Homo sapiens: one gene and its partner. The protein of the gene in region 2 binds, or shares a complex with, the protein of the main gene of each other region. Each region holds a gene or a part of one and is shown on either strand. Other genes may lie near its edges.

The links. Proteins that work in one complex are often made in the same cells at the same time.
Region 1: PPP2R1A (region 2) and STK25 share a complex: the UniProt entries of both Homo sapiens proteins name them as parts of the core of STRIPAK complex.

The regions. Positions count from the first base shown.
Region 1 is NC_000002.12:241,505,570-241,513,487, reverse strand, and holds the start of STK25 (serine/threonine-protein kinase 25), read left to right. Parts: upstream 1-4,903; 5' UTR 4,904-5,045; intron 5,046-5,142; exon of another isoform or gene 5,143-5,352; 5' UTR 5,353-5,452; coding exon 5,453-5,482; intron 5,483-7,918. UniProt on the Homo sapiens protein: Oxidant stress-activated serine/threonine kinase that may play a role in the response to environmental stress.
Region 2 is NC_000019.10:52,193,050-52,200,070, forward strand, and holds part of PPP2R1A (serine/threonine-protein phosphatase 2A 65 kDa regulatory subunit A alpha isoform), read left to right. Parts: intron 1-7,021. UniProt on the Homo sapiens protein: The PR65 subunit of protein phosphatase 2A serves as a scaffolding molecule to coordinate the assembly of the catalytic subunit and a variable regulatory B subunit.

The DNA.
Region 1 (7,918 bases), on a different chromosome or scaffold from region 2:
TTGCAGTGAGCTGAAATCATGCCACTGCACTCCAGCCTGGTGACAGAGCAAGACTCAAAAAAAAAAAAAAAAAAAAAAAAGGAATTTTTGGCACTTTCTTCCTCTCTGGAATTCCCATTAGTTTGGTACTGGACTTGAACTTCTAAGCTTATCTTACTTCCTGAGTTCCTTAATTTTATCTTCCAACTAAACTTTTCTTTTCTCTTTTTGGAGACAGGGTCTCACTCTGTTGCCCAGACTGGAGTGCAGTGGTATGATCGCAGCTCACTGCAGCCTCCACTTCCCCGAGTTCAAGCAATCCTCCCACCTGAGCCTCCCAACTAGCTGGGACCATAGGTACACACTACCACATCCAGCTAATTTTTTTGCATTTTTTGCATACATAGTGCTTTGCCATGTTGCCCAGGCTGGTCTCAAACTCCTGGACACAGGTGATTCTCCCACCTTGACCTTCCAACATGCTGAAATTATAAACTTTTTCTTTTTTTTTTGAGACAAAGTCTTGCTCTGTCGCCCAGGCTGGAGTGCAATGGCATGATCTCAGCTCACTGCAACCTCCACCTCCCAGGTTCAGGCAATTCTTCTGCTTCAGCCTCCCAAGTAGCTGGGACTATAGGCGTGTGCCACCATGCCCAGCTAATTTTTGTATTTTTAGTAGAGACGGGGTTTCACCATGTTGGCCAGGCTGGTCTCAAACTCCTGACCTCAAGTGATCCACCAGCCTGAGCCTCCCAAAGTGCTGGGATTACAGGCGTGAGCCACCGCGCCCAGTCTAAACTTTACTTTTCTTAAAACATGTTATCAATGTCTTTGGTTCTGTGGGTTCACTGAGCCCAGCTGAGTGGCTCCTCCTAAGAGTTGTGGTGACAGAACCTAGGGGTGGTGCTGTCTGAAGGCTCACCTAGGCTGGAATTCCATTTCCATTCATGTGTCTGACATTGGGGTGGCCACACAGCTCAGGGCTGGCTCTGCATCTACCTTTGTGTGTCTTTTCCACATGAGTTTCTGGGTAGATTTCTTAGGCTGACTTCTCCAAAAGTAAGAATCCAAGAGCCTGCGGTAATTTTAATCTATTGTCATTTTATCTCCTGATAGCCTTTTCTTGGGCTGTTTCTTGAAGCATTCTGTGTTTGTTCTAGGAATGTTCTAACGAGGTTCCAGAATGCTCTTCATTTCTCTGTGTTTCTATTTCTTCTCACGTCATCTTTCTAATTTACGTTGGTCTCTATTGTTCATGTTGAAAGTCTTCCCAAATACCCAATATCCTTAGCAGTCTTAAAGAGACTAAGACTGAGGTGTTAGGAAGCTCACAAGGAGTTTGCATTCAAAAGCAGGACTTGTCAAGCGCTGGGCTTTGCTGTAGAGACTGTGTAGGAAGCCCACTCTCAGGCCAGCCTAAATCCCACCTTACAGGGGTGTCTTTTTCTGGAATACCCCCACATTATTTATGCTAGGAAACCCTGTTGCTGTATGATTTGTGTGTGTGAGGGGATGGAGGGATGAGGAGTGGGAAGCTGTTGACTCATGCACATACCTGTCTCCATGGTGTCTCTGCTGTCGACCTCCTCTCCCCCAGCTCCAGCCCCTCACCTTTCCAGGGCTCTGTATCCAATGGAGGGGGCTCAAGTGAAGGCTTCTTCCCCCCATTTCACTGTCACCAAGCTTTACCTCTGGACATTTGTGGCACTCACCTGCTGGGAACCCACTCCTTTCTCTGAACAGTTTCAGGGTTTAGCCTCCCTTCCTGAGCCCCTTTTGACAAGTTATCAGGTCCCTGGTAGGGAAAGAAGAACAAGCTCAAGTGCCCGATCTCTTATCTTAATCAGAAGGGGAACCCAGTTCTAATCCAGATGCTGCTATGCTGTCCTCTTTCTGGGTTTCATTTCCTTGTCTGTCAAACCAGAGGGTGGCTTGGCCAACTCACACCTGACCCAGGTTGACACAAAGTCCAACTCCAGCTTCTCTCCACTCCTACCTGAATTCCCAGCAGCATACAAACAGGACTCAGGAGACCTGGGTTCAATCCTGTCTTTGCCATATTCTGGTTGTGGCCTTGGGCACGTCCCTTTACCTCTTAGTTATCCCTTGCCTGCCTCGGAGGGCTGTTGCAGTCACCAAGTGACTGGACCTGAAGGTAAGCTGCCCAAGGGGCTCAATTGTGAGTGTTCCCTCCTCCCACCCAAGGTCAGCCTTGTCAATAATAAACACAGTGACTCTCTGAGCACCTGCCAAGGGCCAGGCCCGCCACATACGGTGTTATTCTCACAATCTACAAGAAAAGTACTATTAGCGCCATATTCCCAAGGAAGAAAGTGAGTGCCCAGAGAAAAAACTAAAATTTCTTGGAGGTGAAAAATAGAGACCAGGCTCAGTGGCTCACACCTGTACTCTGAAAGCACTTTGGAAGGCTGAGGCGGAAGGATCACTTGAGCTCAGGAGTTTGAGAACAGCCTGGACAGCATGGGGAGACCCCGTCTCCACAAAAATTAGCTGGGTGTGGTGACATGTGCCTGTGGACCCAGCTACATGGGGAGCTGAGGTGGGAGAACTGCTTGAGCCTGGGAGGTCGAGGTTGCAGTAAGCCAAAATTGCCGCACTGCATTCCAGCCTGGGTGGCAGAGTAAGACCTTATCTGGGAAAAAAAAAGAAAGAATCACTGAAAAGAAAATTTTTATATGAAAGTTGAAAGATAAAACCGAAGAATAAGGCCGAGCGTGGTGGCTCATGCCTGTAATCCCAGCACTTTGGGAGGCAGAGGTGGGCAGATCACGAGGTCAGGAGTTTGAGACTAGCCTGACCAACATGACCAACATGATGAAACCCCGTCTCTACTCAAAATACAAAAATTAGCCGGGGGTGGTGGCGCACGCCTATAATCCCAGCTACTCAGGACGCTGAGGCAGGAGAATCGCTTGAACCTGGGAAGCGGAGGTTACAGTGAGCCAAGATCGCACCACTGCACTCCAGCCTGGGAGACAGAGTGAGACTCCGTCTCAAAACAAACACACAAACAAACAAAAACCCCGAAGAATAACAGAAGTATACAACAACAAAAAAGAAATGGAAAACAAGAGAAACGGGATGAAGGGCCTGGAAGGTCAATGCAGGAAAAGACATGGTGATGATCACGTCCGGACGGCAGCTTAGCAAGACAGCAGCCAGGAGCAAAGGGTTAACAATTGGCCAAAAGCAGGCAAAGGCTGAAAAACTCTTCTAGGCACTTTTATTAATTTGTTTTTTGAGGCAGAGCCTTGCTCGGTCTCCCAGGCTGGAGTACTGTGGCATGATCTTGACTCACAGCAACCTCCAACTCCCAGGTTCAAGCGATTCTCCTGACTCAGCCTCCCTAGTAGCTGGGACTACAGGCACGCACTACCATGCCTGGCTAATTTTTGTATTTTTAGTAGAGATGAAGTTTCACCATGTTGGCTAGGCTGGCCCCGAACTCCCAACCTCAAGTGATCTGCCTGCCTCAGCCTCCCAAAGTGCTGGGATTACAGGTGTGAGCCACTGCTCCCAGCCTCTTCTAGGCACTTCGGAAAAGTGCAGCGATTACTGACCACACGAAGGCCAGAGATGCAGCAGGCATCTATTTACATGCATTAAATACATATATTATCTTCATGCATTTACACATTCATTCAACAAACATTACTGAGCGCCTGCCGTGGGCTGGCATGGTCCTGGGCACAGCTCCGCTTGCAGGAAGCCCACTTTCTCCTGGGGAGTCAAAGCACAAACAAAGCCAAGTCAGTACGTAAAGAAGCAGGGGTGATGAGAGATGCGGACCCAGGAGGGGTTCAAGGGGCTGTCCTGGACGCATGACAGGGAAGCATAGCTTCTTAAAGGACTCGGCAGTGCACCATGAGAAGACACGCACCAGGGAGCAGAGAGAAACGCCAGAACCCTCTCGAAGAAGGAGGGATGTGAGGAGGTCAGGATAGTCACCTGTGCTGAGCCATCATGGAGAGTGAGGGCCTGTAAGGGTGGACACAGTATGCAGGAGGGACAAATCTTCCTCACCGGACAGGTGGGGATCCCTGCGGTGCACTAGGGGAATGCACACAGGGGGCACTATGACCTGGCGGCCCACGGGGCACGGGGACGCACCAGGTAGCCTTGGGATCTGCAAGTCCCTCCCGGACCCTGGGGAGTGCCATGACGGCTTCCAGCAGCAGTCACTGTCCTGGGCGCGTCCCGCGCTCTAGCCCAGGTGGGTCCCACAACGGTGTGACCAAGGACGTCCTATGACCACCCCTTGACAGGTAAGGAAACTGAGGCAGGAGAGGCGAAGCAACTCGCCCAAGGAATGGGCTGTGCCGGTAGCTTCTCCAAGGCCTGGTGCGCCCTGGCCTGTGCGCGTGATCCCGGGCGGGGTCTCAGTACGAACAGGGGCTTCGCGATGTGGCCAGCGCGGGCTTATCTCCGTGCCGTGACGACAAGGCTAGAAGCCTGGGCGGCCGCGGTGGATCCTCGTGGCGAGGCGGGGAGGGCGCCGGGCCTCACTGGCCCGCTCGAACCAGGGCTGCGCAGGGCAGAGCCCAAGGGAGAGGGCCGCGCGGCCGCCGTAACGTCGGAGACGACGCCTGGCAGGCGCCAGCAAACGCAGAAGACCCGCGAGGGCGAGGCAGGGAGGGCGCGACGCGACAACGACCACGTGCCCCGCCCGCCCAGGCGCGCGGCCTGCCGGGAGACGCAGTCCAAACCTTTCGGGAGCAGGACTAGGGGTCCCAGAGAGCCTCGCGGCGCGCATGCGAGCCCCGGCCCCCTCTCGCGCAGCCTGCCGGGACTTGTAGTCCAACGCCAGCAGGCTTCCGGGCCCGGAGTGGGCGGTGGGACTCGGGGTCCCAGAGAGCCGTGCGCGGGCCGCGACGCCGAGCACCGCCCTCGCCGTCGCCTCCGGGCTTTCTCCGGTCGCTGCCGCCACCACCGTTGCTTCGCGGGCTGGGAGGCCCGGGGTCCCCGGGCGAACAGAGGCTGCGGGTGGGAGCCTTCGCGGGCGCTGCAGAGCGGGCCGGGGGAGGCCGGGATGGAGCCCCGCGGAGGTGGGCGCGCTGCCGGGCGGGGCGCTTGCGGCGATTGGGGAGGGGGCAGAGGGAGGGGCCCGGGGCGGGGCTCGGTGGCGGGGACACCGGGGCGGGGGCACCGGGAGGAAGCTGCCTTGGAAGAGGTGGGGGCGGCGACGGGAGGGGCGGCGAGCCCCCGGGAGCCTGGGCGTTAGGCCCGGGCGTGGCGGGGCCCCGGCGGCCTGGGGGGTCTCCTGGGCCCCCCCCCACCCATGGAGCCCGCCGCCCCGGAGGTCGGTCTCAGATGACTGAACTGGGCACCGAGCGCCCCTGGTGTCCCTCGCAGTGGACTGACGCCGCAGGGGCGAGCTAGCCGGCTCCGCGCCTCTCCGCGGGATCCAGACGCCTCCTGGGGCTGCTGGCGGAGGGTCTGAGGCGGCGCGGCCATGGCTCACCTCCGGGGATTTGCCAACCAGGTGAGAAGGGTGCAGGTCAGGAAGACTAGCGGCCTCTCACCGAGGGGCTCCAGAGTCTCCTGGGGGTTCAGAGGGGAGCGCCACGCCGGAGCGGGCAGTGGGGTGAGGGAAGGAGCGCGCGTCGTGCGACCAGCGGAGCCGTCCTGAGGTGGGCGCAGGGCGGCCCCGGGGCTCTGCCGTGTGCCTGTGGCGTTTTGCGTGGCAGAAGCTCGCAGGCCTCTAGAAACCGAGCCCCTGGTGGCTCCGCCTGTGCGAGGGCGGTGGAGGTGCGTGAAGAGACACCGGCGCAGGGACGGGGCGCTGCCCCCAGCGCGGGGCGGGAACCTCATGTCAGCATCCGAAGGCAGTGGAAGGTCGGGGGCCACCCTGCGGCCTCGGCCTGGGCCGCGGGTCATTCTGGCCGTGTTGGGCTGGGCAGGGGCTGTAGGGGAGACCCTGGCGGGCGCTGAGGGGCTGAGATTGTGGAGAAGCAGATCTGAGTGGCCGGTGTGCAGGGAAAGCAGAGAACACGTGTGTGCTTTGGCCCAGGGGAGGGTGAAAAGGCTGCTCTGTCAGGACCGTTTAACCCCTGCGACGGGCGGTTGCCCGAACATGAGACTCATCTTTCTTCTTTAAAGAAGTCGTTTCCACTATGGAGCCACCTTTAAGCGTCTGGTGGGACAGCCTCGGAGGGAGCCACTACGGCGAGCCCTTAGCCTGGAATGAGGACCAGCTGCTGGTGCCAAAGGGCTTGCCGGGGAAGGAGGGTGGGGTCAGCCAACCTGGGGCCTGGGGACTTGCATTCTCTACCCCTCCCCACTTTTTTGACTCTGGCCGCTGGGTTTTCTTACATCTTAGCTGTTCGGTTTTATTCTCCTTGATGCCTTGGCTCTACCTAAGGCGTTGGAATCGCCGCTAAAATGTGTGGCCCTCCTTGTTCACTCCTATGTGCTGAATGGAGAGTTGGGCCTGCAGTGGAACAGGAAGGGCGTCTGTTCGCGTAGGGGCAGGAACTGGAGTCAGGGCTGCTTTGGAGGAAACCGGACCAGCCTAGAGACCCGGAACACCATGTGCAGCTGTTGGGCCAGGCAACCTGGACCTGCGTGGTCACAGATGAGACTGGGGCTTGCTGACTGTTGCTGAATTAAGCTAACAGATTTTTGGTTTGCTTTTGGCATTCTGTATCTGGTAACTTACATGACTAAGGTGCTGGGAGAAAAATCTGCCACCAGTTTATTTTACTTTATTTTTATTTTTTTGAGACGGAGTTTCGCTTTTGTTGCCCAGGTTGGAGTGCAATGGTGCAATCTCAGCTCACTGCACCCTCTGCCTCCCAAGTACAAGCGATTCTCCTGTCTTGGCCTCCCAAGTAGCTTGGATTACAGGCATGCGCCACCATGCCCAGCTAATTTTGTATTTTTAGTAGAGACGGAGTTTCACCATGTTGGTCAGGCTGGTCTCAAACTCCTGACCTCAGGTGATCTGCTTGCCCTGGCCTCCCAACGTGCTGGGATTACAGGCATGAGCCACCGCGCTCGGCCACCAGTTTATTTTTAAGAACTGCAGAAATAACTCCTTTGGGTCACAGGATGAGAAATTGGAGCTCCGAGGTGCCCTGTAACTGTGTGCTATTGGTTCTTGGTGCGATCGCACACAGGGAAGGGAGTGCGGGCACATTGGAGAAGGGATTCCAAAGGTAGGAAGCTCCTTTTGTCCTTTTAGGGATCCCTTTGTCCCAGCCTGGATGATGAGAGACTTGACTTCATATAGTGGCAGAAAACCTGAGGGGCTGTGGTTTTCTCCTGAGATGGTTGCCATGGTGTCCTGTGGACCTGTGGGGCAGCCCCTTTGTGGGAGAGTGGGGCGCGTTCCCCCCATAGCCTGTGCTCCTGCCTTAGACTTCTCCCCTCTACCTGGCCAGTTCCTGCCTGGCCCTGGAGGGCCCGAATGGCTGTGGGGTGCCAGAGCACTGTATCACCACTCAGCTATGTGTGCTGGGTCATTCCCCTTGTTTTGTGGGGCAACACTGACAGCAGACACATTGGCAAGTGGAGGCCCCAGACCTGGCAGCCCCAGGGCTAATGTGGAGAACAGGTGTCCACCGCTCGAGTCAGCTGAGTGGCCCGAGTGATCATCCAGGCCACAGCTGCTGCTACATCCAAAAGAGGATTCGCAGCCTCCAGGCCAGGGGCCCACTTACCCTTTCTTCTCCAGGTGGGGGTGGGGATGGCTTGCCTTGGCTTGGCCTGCGATGTCATTGTAGGGCCAGGATCACAGCCAAGAGGGTTCCTGTCACACAGTTTCTGCTTGGGCTGATGAGCCCTGGCTCTGGCTTAGGGGTCCGCTGTGCTCCCCTGCTGTGAAGCAGTAGAGGTCTGAGTGCCCACCCAGGGGTTTCCCTACCGGGGCTGCTGTGATGGAGCAGATTCAGCTCCAGGCCCTGTGTGGAGAGCAGCA
Region 2 (7,021 bases):
CTATGTTAGGTACAGTACAGAGGAATATCACTGACGATCTTACTGAATTCTCACAATCACTCTTTGAAGTAGGTCCTGTCCTTGTCCACATTTTCCAGATGAGGAAACTGAAGCACCATAAATAACATGGCCAAAGCTGTGCAGCTGAGAAATGAAGGAGCCAGGAAAGGAAGTAGGACCTAAGGGTGGAATAGAATCTGGGGTGGGACACACGGTTGCTGATTATATTCATATGCCAGACATTTTAATTGTGTCTGAGACAGTTCAGGATACTAGAAGGAACATGGGACATGAAATCCTGTAGTCTTGATTTATTTGTTCAGCAAATATTTATCAGCACCTCCTGTGTGCCAGACTCTGTTTTAGATACTAGACATACAGTAGGGAACAAAACAGCAAAGCTGCCCTTGTGGGGTTTACATTCTGGTTTGGGAGACAGATAGTAGATCTGTAGTGGGATGTCAGTGGCAGTAATTGCTAAGAAGAAAAATTGCTGGACGTGGTGGCTCAAGCCTAATTGTAACACTTTGGTTTTATTTTATTTTATTTTTTTTGAGACAGAGTCTCACTCTGTCGTCCAGGCCGTCTCTGCTCATTGCAACCTCCGCCTCCCGGGTTCAAGTGATTCTCCTGCCTCAGCCTCCTGAGTGGCTAGGATTAGAGGCGCCCACCACCACATCCAGCTAATTTTTGTATTTTTAGTAGAGAGTGGGTTTCACCATGTTGGCCAGGCTGGTCTCAAACTCCCTGCCCGCCTCTGCCTCCCAAAGTGCTGGGATTACAGGCATGAGCCACCACCCCTGGCCAATTCTAGCACTTTGGAAGGCCAAGGTGAAAGGATCGCTTGAGCCCAGGAGTTTAAGACCAGCCTGGGCAACAAAGTGAGACCCTGTCTCTACCAAAAAAAAAAAAAAAATTAGCTGGTGTGATGACACAGGCCTTGGTCCCAGCTGCTCAGGAGACTGAGGTCGGAGGATTGCTTGAACCAGGGAGATCGAGGCTGCGGTGAGAGCCTGGGCGACAGCAAGACCCTGTCTCCAAAAAAAAAAAAAAAAAAAAAAAAGAACAAAATAAGACAGGTACAGGGAATAGAGCAAGCACCTGGGGCTGCTTTGTTAGATAGGGAGGTTAGAGAAAGCTGCTCTGAGGAAGTGATGTTGAACAAGGATTTGAATGAAATGAACAGGTCGTGGAAGAGCAGTCTGGGCAGAGGGAATAGTTGGTACAAAGGCCAGGAGTGGGAGGATGCTTGATGCGTTCAAAGCACAGCAAAAAGGCCAGTGTGACTGAGGCAGAGAGAATGGCAAAGTGGTGGGAGGTGAGGACTAGACCAGGACTAGATCAAGTGAGGCCTGTGGGCCAAGGTGAAGGCCTTGAAGATGGGAGGGAGGAGGAGGAATTGCAAGGCTTTCAGTAGTAATTATGGGTTCTGGTATAATTTTAAAGGATCCTTCCTCTGGCTGTCATAGGGGTTGGGCCCTGTTGAGGTGCCATTACAAAGCACCCAGGACCAGTGTTAGCATGCAGGGGGGAAGTATGGTTACAGTCAGGACATGTTGAGGGGGGCTGATGGGATTTGCTGGTGGGTAATGTAGAGGGAAGAGTTGAGGGTGACTGAAGTTTGAACCCCCGCTCTGCCAGTTGTGCTCTCTGTGTGCCCCTGGAGCAGTACTTTCCCCTCTTTGGACCCAGATTCCTCATCTGCAAAATGGGGATAATGATGAAGAATCAGCGTGTGCCTGGTTGTGAAGATGCAGTGAAATTGGCTTGCTCATTGTTCTGCGGTAGTCATATGGTGGGGATTGAGCAGACCTGAGGAAATGGGGCATCTGGGGAACCGTGTGGGACCAAGTCAGCAAGTGCTAAAGCCTGGGTTGGGAATACACTGGGCTGTTTGTTTTTTTGGTTACTATCAAGGAAGCAGTTGTGACAAGCCAGGCCCAGTGAGAATGGATCAGTAGACTAGGGTCAGATTGTGTTGGGCCTTGTAGGCCAGAGTAAGGCCTTAGCTTTTATTCTGAATGTGCAGGGAAAACATACTACATGTGGGATTATACCATATACATTCATATTATGGAAGGCTCCATGGGTTGAATGCAGGGTGGATCTTCAAAAGTGGGTCCCCTTTCCACAGGTGCATATAGTGGGAAGGCGGATTTTATTTATTAACTCACCACAGAGCAGGCTCTGTGCCGAGGCCTGCTGGGACACAGAGAGTCCCAGTCTAGGGTGGTAAGTGCTGTCATGGAACCATATGGGTGGACTCTTTGGAAAATCCCAATTCCTATTCTCTCACTTAACACAACAATCAACAACACAGAAGAAGACTTCCGTGACTAAATGTGTGTTGGGGTGGGGAGGGATTCTTCACCACCACTAAGCAAGCATTCAGTTCTGCAGCACACGCCAACTGGATGTCCTCCAATTCAGTTCAGACACGACCTGGAGACAGTGTTGGATCCAACAGGTTGAGGGCTCAGGCCTCAAAACTGCCCCTTGGCCCTCGCCTTCAGTTGCCATTCTGGGTCGTCAGAACTTCTGATCTACCTGCTTCAAGTTGGAGTTCCCATGACCACCCTGCCTTTGGGTTTGATTAATATGCTAGAGCAGCTCTCAGAACTCAGGGAAACATGTAAGTTTATCAGTTCATTATAAAGGATAGTATAAAGAATACAGATGAAGAGAGGCATAGGGTGAGCTATGGGGGAAGGGGTGTGGAGCTTCCATGCCCTTCTTGGGTGCACCACCCTCCAGGAACCTCTGTGTGTTCGGCTATGTTGAAGTTCCCAGGCCCTGTCCTTTTGGGTTTTTATAAAGGCATTGTTAGGTAGGCAGGATTGATTAAACCTGGTGATCACCTTGACCTTCAGCCCCTCTCCGATCCCTGGAGGTTGTGGGGTGGGACTGAAAATCCCAACCCTCTAATCATGCCTCTCTGTTTTCCATGACTATCTTTCCAGTGACCATGGACCCCATCCTGAAGGTATCAGTCAACATTAGCATACAAAAAGCGCCTTGGAGATTCCAAAGATTTGAGGAGTTGTATGCAAGGAAATGGGGATGAAGCCCAAATCTGTATCTCACAGTATCACAACTGTAGCAGGTGCTTGGTGGGGACACACTTGGGAGATAGTCAGTGCACAGGGAATTCTCAGGATATGACATGATCAATGGCCAGTCAAGGTTTCTGAAATGATATTAATAGATTTTCTATCAGGAATGTGACGGAGACCCCAACCTAGAGTTGTTTAAACAAGTAAGAGTTCTCTTTATTTCTCATATAGCAAGTTCAGCAGCTCAAAGCTATCACAGAATTGGGTCAGCTCAAAGATATCACAGAAATGCGGTTTTTTTGACTGGCCTGTTTTGGTTATAAGATTCCAGCAGCATCTGCTGTCCTAGTGGAACTGCACTTTTTAGTGCAGTTTAGCAGAGGCCAGCTTAGGACACAGAGGTTCTTTCCCTCCTCCCTTTTATGAAGGAGGAAAATCTCTCCTGAATCTCCTCAGCAGACTTGCTTGTATATCTCTTTGCCAAGAACTAGGTCATATGCAGAGTTAGTTGAAGTTAAGTTTGGCTGTAAGTAGTAGAAAAACTCTAAATAACAGGGGCTTAAATGAGCTTGAAGTTTCTATCTGACTGATGACCAAAATGTCTGGTGGCAATCCAGGCTGCTGTGGCACTTCATGGTGTCAGGGTCCCAGGCTCTTACCATTATGCGCTGGTTGTATCCTCCATTCTACCCTCCGTGTCCCCCAGGTTACCTCAGGTCCCCAAGTTGGCTGCCGAAGCCCCAACCATTATAGCTCCATTCCAGACAGGAAGGAGGGAAGATAAGTGTGACCCCCATCCCTATAAGTTGCACAAAACATTTCCACTTGGATTTTATTGGCCAGATGTTAGTTTTATAGTCACATTCAGATGCAAAGGCAATTCAGAAATGTCTTTTCCAGGGGTCATGTGTACAGCTGAAAACCAAGGATTATGAACAGCAGTATAGCCCCATGCAGGAGCTCCTAACTTGGGGATCATCTGCAATTCCCAGGCAGGTCCATGAATTTGGATGGCAAAAATAACATCTTTATTTTCATTAACCTTTAACTTACATTTAACTTCCCTTCTGTTATAGATTATAATATCACTATAGTATATCATAGGTAGCGTTAGCAAAACCTGTGACTTACCAGTGGAAATCAGGAGTTGTGTTCACATGTCATTTCTGCTATTATACATATCTTCTAGTGTTGTTTATGTTCACCTCTTTCAAAATTGCGTTCATTATTAGACCTGCTAAGGGGATTCATGGCACCACCCCACCCCTCTACAAGAGAAAAACCAAAAAAAGCCGGGTGCAGTGGCTCATGCCTATAATCCTAGCATTTTGGGAGGTCGAGGTGGGAGGATTGCTTGAGCTCAGGAGTTTGAGGGCAGCTTGGGCAACATAGTGAGGCCTCATCCCTACAAAAAGTTAAAAAACTAGCTGGGCTTGGTGACACCTGCCTGTAGACCCGTCTACTTGGGTAGCTGAGGCGGGAGAATCACTTGAGCCCGGGAGGTCAAGGCTACAGTGAGCTACGATTGTGCCACTGCACTCCAGCCTGGGTAACAGAGTGAGACCCTGCCTCAAAACAACAACAAGCACAACAAAAAAGAAAAAACAGAGCAAATATGAATCCATAGTACTGGTTAAGAACCTGGTGGCTGGGATTCAAATCCTGGCTTTACTACCAGTAAGCTGTATGCAGTTAAGCTCCCTGTGCCTTTGTGTTCTCTGCCTCAAGACGGGGGATTCTGTATTTCCCTCATGGGATTGTGAGGGTCAAATGAATTAAAACATTAAAGCCTGGGGCATAGTAGAGACTAAGGAAATATTTACTGTTATTATTCTGTCATGGTGAAAAAAGGGAAAAGAAACATCAGTGGACCAGCTGCCACGATGTCCTTCTTAATAATCTGAACAAAATCAGGATGCTGTCAGTGAGGCGTGGTTGCCACGGCTGCCATTATTAATCTTCCCCTGGTGCTAGGGTGTCCCTGTAGAATGTCATTTTGTACTCAAGACAACCCTCTGAGGGTAGGTATTCTCATCATCCCCACTTCACAGATGAGAAAATTGAGGCTCAGAAAGGTACAAGGATTGCCCAAGATTCCACAGCTAATATGTAAGCAGTTTAGCCTTGAACCTGGACAGTGCAGCTCTGTAGTACCACCCTAGGCCATCTTTCTCAAGCATTGATGATGCTGTCTGCCTGAAGAAACACTTTTAATGAAACCAAAAGCAGAATCCCAAAGAACAGCAGTGGAAGGAAGGGAGCTCTCTGGATGGGAAAGCAGCCTGATTGTCATGGGCCCACCTCTTGGGCATCCCCAGCTTCAAGTTGGGGTTCCCACGACCCCCTCTTTGGGTTTGATTAATTTGCTGGAGCGGCTCACAGAACTCCAGGAAACACTTAGGTTTACCGGTTTATTATAAAGGATATTCCAAAGGATACAGATGAAGAGGTGCATAGGGTGAGCTATGGAGGAAGGGGCGGGGAGCTTTCGTGCCATCCCTGGGGATGCCACCCTCCAAGAATGTGCATGTTCTGCTATCAGGAAGCTCTCTGAATCCTTTCCTCTTTGGTTTTTATGGAAGCTTCATGATACAAACATTTTTGCCTAAATGACAGTATGATATTGAAATTGAGTCAGGCTGCCTGGCTTCATTGCTTTCCAGTAAGTGACAGCCTCACCTCTGTGCATCAGTGTCCTCACTCGCCTCTGTGCATCAGTGAAGTGGGGACGCTGCTAACAATACATACCTCAGAGCAGTTATGAGGATTCAGTGTGTTAATCATCCATGTCAATCACTTGGATTGCTGCCAAGCACGTAGCAAACAATAAATGTTTGTTGCTATTGTTCTGGCATTTATGATTATGATTATTAATTGTAATTATTCCCTGTACCATCTCATTGTCCTCAGGGCTGTTGCTCACCTAGTATGGCCCTAGCCCATGTGTATATTTCCCCATAGCTCAGGCTGAGAGAAGAACACACAGATCAACTTGGAGAAAACAAAGAGGAAAGAAATAGGCAACTAGGTCAATACTCCCCACAGTATTTTATGTTATTTTATTTTATTTATTTATTTATTTGAGACAGAGTCTCACTCTGTCACCCAGGCTGGAGTGCAGTGGCACCATCTCGGCTCACTGCAAGCTCCACCTCCCAGGTTCACGCCATTCTCCTGCCTCAGCCTCCCGAGTAGCTGGGACTATAGGCGCCCGCCACCACGCCCGGCTAATTTCTTTTTGTATTTATGGTAGAGACGGGGTTTCACCGTGTTAGCCAGGATGGTCTCGATCTCCTAACCTCATGATCCGCCTGCCTCGGCCTCCCAAGGTGCTGGGATTACAGGCATGAGCCACTGCGCCTGGCCTCCCCACAGTATTTTATTATGAAAGTTTTCAGACATGCATAACTTTGGAAGACTAACACAAGGGTCAGCAGACTACAGTCCATGGGTCCAATTCAGCCCACTGTCTGCTTTTGCAAGTAAAGTTATTGGAACACAGCTATGCCTGTTTGCTTCTCTAGTTCTGGTTCTATGGTTGTTTTCAGTGCCACGCAAGCAGAGTTCAGTAGTTAGGTTTGCAAAGCTGAAAATAATTACTGTCTGGCAATGTATAGAATAAGTTTTGCTGACTTCTAGCATAGTGCAGTGAGCACCTCTATACTTACACCCCAGGTCAGTGATTGTTAGTGTTTGCTATATTAGTTTTTTATCTTTCTATAGGTCTGTCTCTATATACGTTTTATTTTTTAGCTGAAAATCAGTTGCAGGTTTTGTAGTACTTTATCCTGAGGTCCGTTTAATGCCAGAATGGTGAGTTTTTGGACTACCTGTATGAAAGATTTACTGTGTGCATTTTTCTGAGGAGAGACCATCACAACACTTCATCAGATGCTCATCGTCTGTGATCGCAGAGATATTCTTCAACTCCTGGACCGGAGAACCCAACTCACGCAAGATCTTAGTCA